Linked DNA regions of Homo sapiens: regions 1 and 3 are each linked to region 2. Evidence: fine-mapped expression QTL. A gene starts in region 2. Each other region holds a variant in brackets. All regions are shown on one strand. Distances are between the middles of the regions.

What was found.
Region 1: its variant is fine-mapped to the expression of NFX1 in whole blood (TOPMed, PIP above 0.99).
Region 3: its variant is fine-mapped to the expression of NFX1 in whole blood (TOPMed, PIP above 0.99).

What each region holds. Positions count from the first base shown.
Region 1 is chr9:33,332,786-33,335,547 of GRCh38, forward strand. All of the region lies in intron 11 of NFX1 (nuclear transcription factor, X-box binding 1), which reads left to right. Among named protein-coding and RNA genes, the nearest start is that of NFX1, 44 kb to the left of the region's middle. The variant A/G (reference allele first, on the strand shown) is at 1,223.
Region 2 is chr9:33,289,329-33,292,090 of GRCh38, forward strand. NFX1 (nuclear transcription factor, X-box binding 1) reads left to right here and starts at 1,188. Exons shown (of 24, transcript NM_002504.6): 1 at 1,188-1,269. The coding sequence starts at 1,245. It also overlaps the pseudogene LOC100862682. RefSeq lists enhancers at 1-78, 784-1,203, 1,214-1,263, 1,233-2,432, 1,414-1,463.
Region 3 is chr9:33,248,106-33,250,867 of GRCh38, forward strand. It overlaps SPINK4 (serine peptidase inhibitor Kazal type 4), which reads left to right. Exons shown (of 4, transcript NM_014471.3): 4 at 321-462. The coding sequence ends at 366. Among named protein-coding and RNA genes, the nearest start is that of SPINK4, 9.3 kb to the left of the region's middle. RefSeq lists an enhancer at 808-917. The variant G/C (reference allele first, on the strand shown) is at 1,261.

The DNA of each region.
Region 1 (2,762 bases), 43 kb after region 2:
ATGTTAATGGTAGAATCTAGATATGGGCATATGGATGTTCACTGTAAAATACTTTGAACTTTTTTTCTTTTTCCTTTTGAGACGGAGTCTCGCTCTGTTTCGCAGGCCAGAGTGCAGTGGCGCGATCTCGGCTCACTGCAACCTCCACCTCCCAGGTTCAAGTGATTCCCCTGCCTCAGCCTCCCAAGTAGCTGGGATTACAGGTGTCCACCACTACACCTGGCTGATTTTTGTATTTTTGGTAGAGACGGGGTTTCACTGTGTTGGCCAGGCTGGTCTCTAACTCCTGACCTCAAGTGATCCACCCGCCTCGGCCTCCCAAAGTGTTGGGATTACAGGCATGAGTCACCACACCGGCCTCGATTCCTGTTTTTATAACCGACACATACTGTTGTTGAAGCCATTTTAAAACCTTTTTGGAAAAGTGATGGAAGATAAGGATATGCAAAATAAAAGGTCTTACTGTAGTCAGAAAGAAAGCTGTATTGGTTAGGAAGCTTCTGGATGCAGGTAACAAAACCCAAGAAAAAGTGACTTTTACGATAAGGGTGTTTACTGCCACACCTGATAGGATATCTGGAGGCAGAACAAGTCCGAGATTGGTTAATTTTAGCTCAGTGATTTTGAAGACTTCAATTTGGCTTCTCTGTGGTTTTCTTGATTTTCTCCTCGTGGGTATGTTAGCTGCTGCAGCTTCACACATTGGGTCTCTGCCCAACAACATCTAAACAAAATCCATGAAGAGAGTGTTGTTGTTCTCTTCCTATGTAAGAGCAAGGAAAACAGTCCTGAAAGGTTCTCAGTACACTGTGTCCAATTCTTCTGCCTAAACCTGTAACTAGCAAAGTGAATGGAATTACCATGGTGGGTAAAGGTACACAACATCCACCCCTGGAACTGAGGAGCACACTGGCTCCCAGTTTCTGAACAAAATTAAGGCTGTCTTTGCCTGAAAGAGAAGAGTGGCCGTTTGGGAGGTACCCAGCAATATCTGCCTCAAAACCGTATTTAAACTTTTGGTTCAGTGTGCCATCTGTATCAAGGAAAAAAAGTTTGGTTATTAAAAACATAATTTGGGTCCAAGCCTGGTGGCTCATGCCTGTAATCCCAGCACTTTGGGAGGCCAAGGTGGGCGGATCACCTGAGGTCAGGAGTTCAAGGCCAGCCTAGCCAACATGGTGAAACCCCATCTCTACTAAAAATACAAAAATTAGCCAAGTAC[A/G]GTGGCGCACCCCTGTAATCCCAGCTACTCAGGAGGCTGAGGCAGGAGAATCACTTGAACTCAGGAGACAGAGGTTGCAGTGAACTGAGATCACACCATTGCTCTCCAGCCTGGGCGACAGAGTGAGACTCCGTATCAAAAAAGAAACAAGAAAAACATAATTTGGGCCAGATGCAGTGGCTCACATCTGTAATCCTTATGCTTTGGGAGGCCAGGGCTGGGGGATCACTTAAAGCCAGGAGTTCAAGACCAGCCTGGGCAACATAGTGAGGCACTGTCTTTGCAAAAGAATTTTTAAAGTTAGCCAGGCATAGTGGCATGTGCCCATAGTCCTAGATACTCGGGAGGCTGAGGCAGAGGATTGCTTGAGTCCAGGAGTTTGAGGTTGCAGTGAGCTGTGATTGTGCCATTGCACTCTATCCTGGTGACAGAGCGAGACCCTATCTCTAAAACAATAAAACAAAATAATAAAAACATAATTTGAAAAAATACAAAATTAATACACTTATGAAGTTTAAAAAAAAATATGAAGTGAAAGATGAAAATTTGCCCTCTAATAGTAGTTTGTTAGTTAGGGTTTCAGATCTTTTTCCCTATTCATACAGATGTATAAACATGCCAGCATAGTTTTGTTTTTCCCTAGATTTAGGCTTATACTAAAGATACTGTCTGCAGCTTATTTTCCCTCACTAATATCTCAAAGACGTATTTCCATGTCAGTATGCATAACTCTTGTTCTTGCAGAGTATTCCATATGTGGATCTGCCTTGTCATAGTTCACCATGACCCTTTTGGTGGTCATTTAGGTTGTCTCCAGTTTTTCCCCATTATTAATAAGCAGGAACCGTCCTGTCCCACTTTTTATAACTTTATGATGCAAAATTTCAACCATACGTGAAAGTGGAGAAACTGGTATAATGAATCCCCACGTACCTATGACCTGTCATCATCAGTTGTCAACATTTTACCTCTCGTTTTCATCCATCCCTCCTTCCCTACATTTTATTTATGCTGAAGTACTTTGAAAACAAATCTCAAATATCATTTCACCCATAAATACTTCAGTGGTTAGCCCACTTTTTTTTTAGTTGAAATTCACATAACATAATTAACCATTTTAAATGTACAGTTCAGTGGCACTTAGTTCTTTCACAATCTAGTTCCAAAATATTTTCTCTGTCTTACATTTTTTCTTCTTCTCTATTTTATCTTTCTTTTTCTTTTTTTTTTTTTTTTTTTTGAGACGGAGTTTTGCTCTTGTTGCCCAGGCTGGAGTGCAGTGGCGCAATCTCAGCTTACTGCAACCTCCACCTCCTGGGCTCAAGCAATTCTCCTGTCTTAGCCTCCTGAGTAGCTGGAATTACAGGCACCCACCACCATGCCTGGCTAATTTTTTTGTATTTTTAGTAGAGACGGGGTTTCACCATGTTGCCCAGGCTGGTCTCGAACTCCTGGCCTCATGTAATCCGCCTGCCTCAGCCTCCCAAAGTGCTGGGATTACAGTCATGAGCCACCGTGCCCAACCTTTTTTTAAATTTTA
Region 2 (2,762 bases):
CCTTGTCCTGGGTAGGCCCCTGCCTGCCCCTCTCTGCCTTTTCCTCGGGTGTCCCTCCTCGAGCCCCTGCGGCACTGGCTTGGGTGGCAGAGCCCACTTGTTTCAGGGACCCCAGGAGGTGGTGCCCCCTGGCTCCTGGGACTGTGTGTGGGTCTGGGGGGTGGGGGGGTGGGGAGAAGCGTCGGGCAGGGGGTGCAGGGGAGGAAACTCCTCACCAGGAAAGCCAAAGACAGGGTTGTGCCTTACCTCAGGAGCCACCCGTTCCCCCTTGCCCTGCCGTTCACCCTCCACCTTTCCCCCCGGGCGGCCTGCTGCTTTTTCCTTCTCTTCCTCCCCTGCCCTGCCCTGAGCTGCATGGTTCCCCTACCCTGGGAAGCCAGGAAGGAATCTGAATGGAGAATCACCAACCACCAAAGAAAAAAAGACTGCGGGGCCCTCCCCTGCCAACTCCCCTTCCCTGGCCGCCCACTCACCCACACCTCTTTCACGCAGGACAGGCTGCCCACCCTGTCCACGTGAAGTGCCAACGCCCTCCCCACCCTGGGCCGAGCCCCCACCCCTCCCTGGGCCCCCAAGTGAGATTGCACATTTAACTACTGTAAGGAGAGGAGCGGCGTTGGCAAATGTGAACCATGAGAATATCGGTGATACTGATGAGAATAAACGCCTTTGTAAAAAAAAAAAAAAAAAAAAAAGTCTGGAGCCAGGCGTGGTGGCTCGCCTGTAAGCCAAGCACTTTAGGAGGCCAAAGCGGCAGGATCGCTTGAGGCCAGGAGTTGGAGAGACTAGCCTGGGCAACATGGCGAAACCCGTCTCTACTAAAAATAGCTGCGCATGGTGGCTCCGCCTGTAGTTCCAGCTACCGGAAGGCTGAGGCGGGAGGATTAGAGACTGAAGCTATAGTGAGCCATGATCAGACCACTGCACTCAAGCCTGGGTAAGGCAGCAAGACCCTATATCAAAAAATAAAAAAAGGAAAACCACAATGATTACGCAAGTCGCCGCCCTCCCTCCTGCGATTGTTGCTATTTCCATCCAGCTACTAGTCTCCTCCTCCCGCCCGACACCTGGCGCGTCTATCTGACGTCACGAACGCGCCACACAGATTCGGGCTGCGCAACCTCTGTGGCCGTCTACACGGCGCGCAGATGCGAATATTCTCGCGGCGCCGGAAGTCCGGGGCACGTGACCTGGTGACAGTGCTGACTTGGCTGTACAGCTCGATCTAGGTTCTGCGGCACGGGATGGCGGAGGCGCCTCCTGTCTCAGGTATTGTCCCGGCCCGAGCGGGACTGGGCCCCTTTCAGGGAGCGGAAATTGGGTCAGTGACGAAGTTCTAGGGCCTCAGCCACTCATATCGCGAGAGTAGCACATGCTAGGGCGTAGGATAGTGGCTCGGAAGGGCCAAGCCCCGCGCATCGTGCGTACGAAGATCTGTGTCTTCTTGGACTAGATGGTGAAGCCCAGTAGCTGGGTTTCGGAGGAGAGAGGACTTGTCCCGGCGCTGCGAGTCGATGTGGGTGCCCTGCCTTCCCACAGGCTGTTTCTGGGGCAGCGGCGCACTGACCTTCGACAGGCGGGCGTCGGCCAGGTCACAGCCAGTGACGGTGGCGGGCTCTTGACGTGTAGGGTGTGGTGTGCTCATACCGCCTGGAGTGGTGGCGTGGGCGCGAGCCGAATTCCAGTAGTTTAGAGTCTCAGCCTGCTGCGAACCCCGTGTGACTCAGTCTCAGTCTCCTCATCTGTCAGTTGGGAGTAGATAAGTTAATTCCTGTGATGGCTCCCGCCCTGTACTGTACCTATTCTGTAATTGTTCACTCACTCCCCCTCCTGGAGTTGCCTCAGTGTGTAGAGACAGCCTCATTTGTTCGTTGATATAACATCCATTTCCTCAGGGTGTTCCATAGATCAGTGTTTTCCAAATGTGTTGGACAGCAACCAAAAGAAACATTTTGCATCGCGACCTTAAATATTGTACACTTACATAAATATAAAAGCGAACCAGAAGTTTCTGGAAGCAGTGAGGTTGGTTGGTTTGTTTTACAATCAGCAATATATTCTGTTTTCTGTTTCGTTTAAAAATATGTCACAGCCCACTGCCTTCATTTGATTTTATGGCCCACTCTGGAAAACAGGGCAGCAGTTTGCAGAATGGAGTTTGGAAACCATTGGTTTGAATCTCAGCTCTGTCCCTGACCAGCCGTTGGGGCACCAAGAAGACCATATATGTATTTGTATACTGGGTGGCAGGTAAAATGTATTTATTACTATGGTTCTTAGTTTAAAAAGTTAGGGCCGGGCGTGGTGGCTCACGCCTGTAATCCTAGCACTTTGGGAGGCCGAGGTGGACGGATCACGAGGTCAGGAGATCGAGACCATCCTGGCTAACACGGTGAAACCCCGTCTCTACTAAAAATACAAAAAATTAGCTGGGCATGGTGGCACGCGCCTGTAGTCCCAGCTACTCCGGAGGCTGAGGCAAGAGAATTGCTTGAACCCTGGAGGCGGAAGTTGCAGTGAGCCAAGATCGTGCCACTGCACTCCAGCCTGGGCGACAGAGTGTGACTTCGTCTCAAAAAAAAAAGTTGGAAAACACACTGCATTGGTGTACCCTAGTCTTGATGTGGATATTAAGTCTTCCTTGGGGTTGGAAAACTTTTTGGGCTGGGTATTTTGTTATTCTCCTCACCTAGTCCTTCACCAGATTCTCTAAACTGGATCTATTGATCGTCTCATCCACAGGCTCGTTTCTGACTCATTTC
Region 3 (2,762 bases), 41 kb before region 2:
GCCCCTAGGACATCCCACTGGATATGGACAACTGCATGAACAGGTAGGACATAGGTCCGAGCTGGAGACAGATTTGGCAGCCATCAGCGTGCGCTGGTGGTGGAAACCCCAGGAAGCTAAAATCCCCCAGGGGAAGGGTGTACAAAAAAGGAAAAGCTGTAGAAGGATGTGCCCATGGACCCTTGGGATCTGCCCTGTATCCATACACTGCATATGTGGGCGACGCTCAGCAGGATGTCTGGATGGACTGTGCCAGGTCCCTGAATGGTACACTACAGCTCCTGAGAAGGTAGCCTCATGCCTGTCTTCTTTGATCCTAGAAAAACCAAACAGGACATCCAGATCATGAAAGATGGCAAATGCTGATCCCACAGGAGCACCTCAAGCCATGAAGTGTCAGCTGGAGAACAGTGGTGGGCATGGAGAGGATATGACATGAAATAAAAGATCCAGCCCAACTGAGTGAAGTGGTCAGTGTCTCTGGGGACACTGGTTGCAGAGGGGATAGGAGGTGGATCTTGCATTGTCGCCTCTACTCTGAATTTGATGTCCAGCTTCTCTCCGTCCCTCTGGTGCTCCTCAACCCTGTCACATGTCCCCTCAGAGGTCCCAGTTATCTTCTGCCTGCCTGAGAGGCCAGTCCCTGACCCCAGGATGCTGCCTAGTACTCCTGTCTGCCCCAGCCTGGACTATCATTCAGGCCAAGAACCTAGGTGAGGTCTGTATCCTCTGCCACTGCTGGGGTGCACGGCCCAGCCTCAGAAAGCCTCTGTGAAATCAGGAACAGTAGCTCATACCTATAATCCCAGCACTTTGGGAGGCTGAGGGTGGCAGGATTGCTTCAGGCCAGCCTGGGCAACATAGCAAGACTGTCTTTACAATTTTTTTTTTTTTTAATTAGCCAGGCTTGGTGGCATGCACCTGTAGTCCCAGCTATTCAGGAGGCTGAGGTGGGAGGGGATTGCTTGAGCCCAGGAAGTCGAGGCTGCAGTGACCCATGATCGCATCACTGCACTCCAGCCTGAGTGACAAAGTGAAACCCTGCCTCAAAAAAGAAAAAAAAAAGCTTTGTGAGAGTCATCCTGTGCCCCCCATGGCTTCCTCCTGGGTTGTGCCAGCACTCCAAGGCATGTACACACAGACACGTGGCACAGCAATGGCTGATATTCAGGCAGTGTACACAGTACAGCTGAACTGCTTGTTGTAACATTGAACTAGGTTTTTCACAATCGAAAACAGGTGATGCCCCAAGCCCTTTGA[G/C]TGCCCCCCCATACCCTAGCCACCCAGATTGTCCCCTGGAAACACCTGGGTCTCTCGGTTTCCACAGTCTGGGGTTAATTCCTGGCACTGTGGGATGATTTCGAGATGCTGCTCTGCTCTTTTGGTCAACATCTGCTCTGACTGGTTGTCAAATATTCTGACATTAGACACAGCCCCAGGCACGTCCTGCACACATGCACTCACACAATGTCCCACAGGGACACACAGTGTTCAGAATTGTCACCATAGACAGAGACTCCCTCCTGTGGTATATGTTGAATACCTCCTCTTTTGGCCAAAGCCCCTAGGCAGAGCCTCTTGATAATGGTGGCAGGAGAAAGGGGTATGGAGAGAGGCCTGGGCAGGTGAAAGCAGTTTCACACAGACTCTGATTCCTGCTGCAGAGTGGGCAGAAAGGGCAGGAAATGCTCTGTAGAAGACACATGTCTGAGAGAATGGGCACAGGAAGGCAGGAAGCTACTTTCTCTTGGACCACTGGAATGGGAACACTGAGCAGGAATTGTTGCTGATAGATTTGCAGGTGGCAGGCCTAGGAGGCCATCTATGAATAAGGCCTTCTACTGGGACTGATTCATACCTGTTTCATACCTGCATATGAATGATGTAGGATTAAGTTTGGCTGTGAGAGGCAGAAAACCCAAAATAACAGTGACTTATAGCCAGAACTTCATTTCTCCTACACATAGACCTATGTAGTATGACAACTCCATGCTCCTCTATTTTGTTACTCTGCCATCCGCATCACAGTTTCTACCTCAGGTCCAAGACAGCTACTCCAACCACAGCCATCACATCTGCATTCTAGGCCACAGAGAGAAAGGGCACGCCACTTGCCTCTGAAGACATTTCCCTTAAGACATACACACTCTGTATAAACCACATTAGCTAAAATGTAGTCTCATGGCCTTCTGAGCAGGGAGACTGAGAAATACAGTCTATCTGGTTGGCCATGCATTAAACTAAAAATTAGTTCACTTTTTGTAGGAGGAGAAAGTGGATATTGGTGACATCTAAAAGTTTCTGCCCTAAGTGGGACACCCCTCTTATACCCAAGTGGCATAGCCCAGCCAAGCATCTCATCAGTGACCCTTCCTTCCCAGGCTTCTACTCATCATCTGAGGAATCAGAGATTAAGCCTGAACAATGTGCCAGGCACCACCTGGAAGGAATACCTAATTTACCACTTACAGATGTGGACTCTGTGGCCCCCTCTCTGGGAACTACCCCAAAACCTAAGTGTTGGCCCCTAAAGACCTTATGTGTGGCATGAGACCCTGCTGCCCTGGCCATTGCTGATTAGCCAAAAGATTCTTCCCCAGGATCTTTCAAATTAGAAACAAGCAAACAGAGGCAGTTCCCCTCTGGCACTGAAGCTGTAGGATGAGCAACACAGGGGTTGTCAGCAGTCACATGTCCTGCTTTGTGGAAGAAGGAGGAATGAGAGGATGATGCAGGCATGCAGAGGCAGAGTGATTACAGGC